Homo sapiens: one gene and its partner. The protein of the gene in region 2 purifies or fractionates together with the protein of the main gene of each other region. This does not show direct contact. Each region holds a gene or a part of one and is shown on either strand. Other genes may lie near its edges. The genes, in order: SPICE1 and MEFV.

Region 1 (3,829 bases), on a different chromosome or scaffold from region 2:
GCAAGACCTTCGCACTTGCTTTTCCTCTGCCCAGACTGCTCTTCTCTCAGCTACCCACATGCTCACTCCTCGCCTCTTCCAGGTCTTGGCTCAAATGTCACTTCCTCAGACAGGCATGGCCCATCTCATTTGTAACTGCATCCTACCCCATCCTATGCATTTCCTGTGCCTTTATGTGCTTTATTTTTCTTCAAAGTACATATCACCATCTAACTTACTATACTTCAACTTTTTGTTTTTAGGATTTATTTAGAATGTAAGCTCCATGAGGGCAAAGTTTTCTATATTTTGTTCACTATTCTATTTCCTGTACCTAGAACAGTACCAGGCCCACAGCAGGTGTTCAACAAAGATTTGTTAAGTAAATTAGTACATTTTAAAACTGCACATCTTCCCAGGAGAATTAAACATATGTTCTGCAAAAATATGTATATGAATGTTCATAGCAGCATTATTCATAACAGACAAAATGTAAAAATAACCCAAATGTTCATTAACTAATGAAAGGATAAATAAAATATGGTATATCCATACAATGGAATATTATTGGGCAATACAAAGGAATGAAGTACTGATACATGCTAAACATAAATTAACCTTAAACATTATACTAAGTGAAAGAAAAGCACATATTACATTATTCCATTTCTATGTAATATCTATATTAGGCAAATACACAAACACAAAAAGTAGATTAGTGACTGCCAGGAGCTGGCAAGAAGAGAGAATGAAGAGTGACTTCTAAAGGGTACAGGATGGCCTGGCGCGGTGGCTCATGCCTGTAATCCCAACACTTTGGGAGGCCAAGTCAGGCAGATCACGAGGTCAGGAGATCGAGACCATCCTGGCTAACACGGTGAAACCTCATCTCTGCTAAAAATACAAACAATTAGCCAGGCGTAGTGGCAGGCGCCTGTAGTCCCAGCTACTCAGGAGGCTAGGACAGGAGAATGGCGTGAACACGAGAGGCAGAGCTTGCAGTGAGCTGAGATCATGCCACTGCACTCCAGCCTGGGGGACAGAGTGGGACTCCGTCTCAAAAAAAAAAAGAAAAAGGGTACAGGATTTCTCTCTGGAGTGAGGAAAATGTTCTGGATTTAGATAACAGTGCTGGCATACAACTTCAAACATACTAAAAACACTGATTTGTACATTTTAAAAGGGTGGAGGACTTAATGGTATGTGAACTATATTATCAAATTTGTGTGTGGTTTCAGTTTTTTGTTGTTTTTTTTTTTTTTTTTAGAGACAGGGTCTCACTCTGTCACCTAGGGTGGAGTGTAATGGCAAAATCATAGCTCACTGCAGCCTCAAACTCCTAGGCTCAAGTGATCCTCCTGCCTCAGCCTCCCAAGCAGCTAGGACTACAGGCATATGCTACCATGCCCAGCTAATATTTTTATTTTTTGTAGAGACAGGTCTCACTCTGTTACCCAGGCTGATCTCAAACTCCTGGCCTCAAGTGATCTTCCCACCTTGGCACCCAAAATGTGGGGATTAAAGGTGTGAGCCACTGCGCCTCGCCCTATATTATCAATTTTAAAAAATTATACATCTACATCTAATGTCCATTAACACAAACATAATTTATCTTCTAACTATTACTTGTCTAGTCTCTTCTGGCTGATAAATAAAAGTAATAATAACCATCATATGAGAACAAAAAAGATGAATAAAATAGACTGTGTACACTCAAGAAGCATACAGTCTCAGTAACAAGTACACATATAAGTATAAAACAATTTGATAAATGCAATAATACCAATATCCAGACAGTATCAGAAGTGCACAAAGAAGCAAGGTGCAGTGGCTCATGCCTGTAATCCCAGCACTTTCGAGGGCCAAGGCGGGCGAATAGCTTGAGCCCTGGAGTTCGAGACCAGCCTGGGCAACATGGTGAAACCCCATCTCTACAAAACATAAAAAGTTAGCTGGGTATGGTGGTGTGCACCTGTAGTCCCAGCGACTTGGGAGGCTAAGGTGGGAGGATCACTTGAGCCCAGGAGGTCCAGGCTGCAATGAACTCATGCCACTGCACTCCATCCTGGGTGACAGAGTGAGACACCATCTCAAAAAAAAAAAAAAAAGTTCACAAAGGAAGAATGCTCAATGCAGCATGGAAGCAATAGGTTTTCCAGAAGAGAATGGTGTAAGTCTTTTAAAAAAGAAAAGGAGCAATTAGTCAAGCAGCAAAGAGGACTTTATGTAACAAATATGAAGATACTGTGAACAACTGTAAATGGCTCTGATATAATTGCAAAAGGACTCCTCAAAGGCTACCTTCTGCTGTTTTGAAATTAAAAGTGGCTGTCATAACACTCATTTCACATTTTGGATTAACTACTGTAACACTTGTAGTTATAATTTAAATGTAGACTCTGTCTTCCCACTAAATAGTAAGTCTCTTGAAGACAGGAAGACAGTCCATATACTACTTCCAAGCTTCTACTATAGTACTTCCATGTAATAAATGTTCAATAATACCTGCCACTGATGATAAAAATGACTGATAAGTAATCACATCGATACAGTTAAACCAAAAGCAACTCTAAGAGAATCCAGTACATGTTTAAAGATGTTTTATACCACTGAACACATAAAAATTGGGATCTCATCTGAGTACCTGTGTAGCAGCGTTTTCTTCTCTAAGACGAAGAATTTCAGCTGTCAGAGCATCAATGAGCTCTCGATGATCACCTAATACTTGTTCCAGTTGTTGCCTTGTCTCTACTTCTTTACGTAGCTGGATCTCACTCTACAAAAAAATATCAAATAAACTTCCACCAATAGCATCACATGTTGAAAACTAAAAGTTTGCACTCAAAGCTGGCAAAGAAGATATTTACAAAGAAGCATATATTATGTGACAGTAATGATGAAGAGTTTTATTAAAAGGTTTATTATATTTAATTAAAGAAAATGTGCTTCTTTATCCTCTTCCCTTCTTTAAATAGAATAAAATGAACTAAATGCTATATAAAATTAAGTAACTACATTTTTTGTAAAAAGAAAGTAGAGGGATATACATATACATATTATTTGAATATACACTGACCATCTCTAGAAAGATACACTGGTATCTGGAATGATAGTTGGCTATAAATAAGCAAACAGGCTAGCTGGAAGTTAGTCATGAGAGTTAGTACAATCTGCTGTTATCTTTGAATTTCATAATATGTGACTATATTGCCAATTCAAAAATTAAGCTTGTTAAAATATAATTTAAAGTAAATGACTACAACTTTAAATGGTTTAACTTTGTAAAACAAGTGATTAGCTTAAAAGTACACGCTTCTGGTCGGGCGTGGTGGCTCACACCTGTAATCCCAGCACATTGGGAGGCCAAGGCAGGCAGATTACAAGGTCAAGAGATCGAGACCATCCTGGCCAACATGGTGAATGAAACCCCGTCTCTACTAAAAATACGAAAATTAACTGGGCGTGGTGGTGCACGCCTGTAGTCCCAGATACTCAAGAGGCTGAGGCAGAAGAATCTCTTGAACCCAGGAGGCAGAGGTTGCAGTGAGCCAAGATCATGCCACTGCACTCCAGCCTAGCAACAGAGCGAGACTCTGTCTCAAAAAAAAAAAAAAAAGTACATGCTTCTAAGCCTGCAATACTCTCCAAGAGCCAAAAGTATACTCCTGAAGATTCCTGAGTTAAGGGTGAAAGAATGTTAAGGTTTTAATAGGTCTGACAATACAATGAATCTGTCATTAAAAAGTTAATTTTAGGGTCAGGTGCAGAGGCTCACGCCTATAATACCAACACCTTGGGAAGCCAAGGTGGGCAGATCGCTTTGAACTCAGGATTTCGAGACCAGCCTGGG
Region 2 (2,883 bases):
GATATTTCACATTCAGGAACCATTTTAGGAATAACACAGGAGAAAAAAATATGTATATGGTGAGGTGGTGGAAAATATACACAAAGATATTCATGAAAAGCTTATAACAAGGGAGAATCGGGAATAAGACATGACCCACCGCAGGGAACAGCTAAGCCGTAGGTCATGTGAACTGTCCTGGGATGTGGATTACTCTTATAGAATAAAACTCGTGGAGGAAAGCCCAGCAAGTTTACCTGCTCTCATCATAGCCATGGAGTATCTGAGTCTAATCTACACTCTAGTAGTGAAGACAGAGGAGTTGGCATAGGAGTTTGGAATTTAATCTTCATTTGATTTTTTTCTTCTTACATCCACTTTTTGGAGACAGGGACTCACTCTGTTGCCCAGGCTGGATTGCCGTAGTGCAGTCTCAGTTCACTGCTGCAGCCTCGATCTCCTGCGCTCAAGCCATCCTCCCACCCCCATCCCTATGGCTAATTTTTGTATTTTTTGTAGAGACGGGTTTTCGCCACATTGCCCAGCTGGTCTCAATCCCTGGGCTCAGGCGATCCACCCGCCTTTGCCTCCCAAAATGCTGAGATTACAGATGTGAGTCACCATGCCCGGCCCCTTTACATCTCTTTAAATGAAGGACAAATGCACGGGATGTGTGTGAAGTAGAACCTAATATTCCACAACCCGCAGATTTTCCCATACAAACCAAGACAGAATAATCTGACACTTGGAATACATGCCAAATGTTTTTCCATACAGTAGTCCCATCTGCTTCCTGAAATGCAGTCGGGAAATGGGATTCCACAGTGATTGAGTGACAAATGCAAATGACCAGATTTTCTAATTTTTTTATTCATGAGGCCCAGTCAATTCTCTTAAGAATCATGGCCCGGCATGGTGGCTCATGCCTGTAATCCCTGCACTTTGGGAGGCTGAGGTGGGTGCATCACCTGAGGTCAGGAGTTTGAGACCGGCCTGGCCAACATGATGAAACCTCATGTCTACTAAAAATGCAAAAAATTAGCCGGGCATGGTGGCGGGCGCCTGTAATCCCAGCTACTTCGGAGGCTGAGGCAGGAGAATCTCTTGAACCTGGGAGGCGGAGGTTGCGAGCCAAGATTGCACCACTGCACTCCAGCCTGGGTGACAAGAGCAAAACTTTGTCTCAAAAAAAAAAAAAAAAAAGAATCATAGGCCGGGCACAGTGGCTCATGCCTGTAATCCCAGCACTTTGGGAGGCTGAGGCGGGTGGATCACCTGAGGTCAGGAGTTCGAGACCAGCCTGGCTAACATGGTGAAACCCCCGTCTCTACTAAAAATACAAGAAAACCAGCCTGGTGTGGTGGCACGCACCTGTAATCCCAGCTGCTCAGGAGGCTGAGGCAGGAGAATCGCTTGAACCTGGGAGGTGGAGGTTGCAGTGAGCTGAGATCGTGCCACTGCACTCCAGCCTGGGCCACAGAGCAAGATTTGGTCTCAAAAAAAAAAAAAAAAAATCATAGTTCATTAATCCAGGTACACAAATACTTCTATCCCAATCCAGTCTGCTTGCGTTTCTCTAGGCTTCCCATATCCTCAAGACAGAAGCAGAGAGAACAAGGGGACATATATCCTTGCCGTGGGGTTCTGAGGGAAAATGAGGGCCAAATCTTCTGTTCAGGAGCACCTGAGAGTGCCACCCACCAGGGGCGGATTATGCAACGACTCCGTACTTCCTCCTCTGAAATCCATGGTGTGTCATCAGTACATGTCTTCACCCGGATTGACTAACATGTTCGTTCCTAACTTACCTCTGCTATAATCGGGTAGGCTCCGTGGGCACAGTAACTATTTTGTTATTTTTGCATTTCCCATAGCAGCTAGCACCTAGTCGGCATTCCGTGACTATTGAGTGTGAATGCAAGATACAAGGCCAGAAGCAGGAAGAGAGATGCAGTGTTGGGCATTCAGTCAGGCCCCTGACCACCCACTGGACAGATAGTCAGAGGAGCTGTGTTCTTCCCTCCATCACGTGTCCCAGGGCTGAAGATAGGTTGAAGGGGCCCAGAGAAAGAGCAGCTGGCGAATGTATAGATGTGGGATCTGGCTGTCACATTGTAAAAGGAGATGCTTCCAACTCTGTAGTCCACGAAGATGCCCACACGCTTGGGAGGCTCCTTTATTAGCAGGCGGGTCGGGGGAACGCTGGACGCCTGGTACTCATTTTCCTTCATCATTATCACCACCCAGTAGCCATTCTCTGGCGACAGAGTCATGTTCCCTTTCCTGCTTATGGATGTCTTGCAGGCTCCCAGGATCCATGCTGTCTTGTCTCCAACCTCCACCTCCCAGTAACGGCGGCCAGAGAGGAAACTCGGAGAGCCCAGAACAATGATACAGCTGTCAAATCTTTGCGGGCCATCAGGCAGCCTCTCCCACTTGTTTCCAAGTCTAACACTCTTCAGATCATCAGAGAAGATGAGGTTGGGGTAAGCGGTTTCTGCATCCAGAATCACATTAACTGCAAAGAAAATTTGAATACCTAGGTAGGGGTCCATGGGCAACATCCCTACAGGGTTCTCCCCACCTGCAGGAAACAGGGACAGGGTAGTTCTTCTGGAACGTGGTAGGGGAGAGCACAGGGATCCAGCAGGCCAGGGCCACTTGCCTTGATCTGGGCACTTACCAGCATGTGCCTGAGCGCCAATCAGCTCCGGAACTACGGAGAAAAATCAGATAGGGAAAAAAATCCTGAGCATTAGCATTAAGAGGGGCTAAATTACACTGTCCTGACAACAAGGAAAGACAAGGAACCCCCTGCTTAGGGCCCTGCATGCTATGTTGGGTATAATCCCGTTCCTCCCAGGAACCCAGGCCATGTTGGGGACTGTGGTCTAATGAGTCAAC

The links.
Region 1: the proteins of MEFV (region 2) and SPICE1 purify together in Homo sapiens (affinity purification with mass spectrometry; one large-scale study listed by BioGRID and IntAct). This does not show direct contact.

What each region holds. Positions count from the first base shown.
Region 1 is NC_000003.12:113,463,030-113,466,858, forward strand, and holds part of SPICE1 (spindle and centriole-associated protein 1), read right to left. Parts: intron 2,756-3,829; coding exon 2,624-2,755; intron 1-2,623.
Region 2 is NC_000016.10:3,241,198-3,244,080, forward strand, and holds the end of MEFV (pyrin), read right to left. Parts: intron 2,871-2,883; coding exon of another isoform or gene 2,696-2,870; coding exon 2,663-2,695; intron 2,498-2,662; coding exon 1,944-2,497; 3' UTR 830-1,943; downstream 1-829. UniProt on the Homo sapiens protein: Involved in the regulation of innate immunity and the inflammatory response in response to IFNG/IFN-gamma.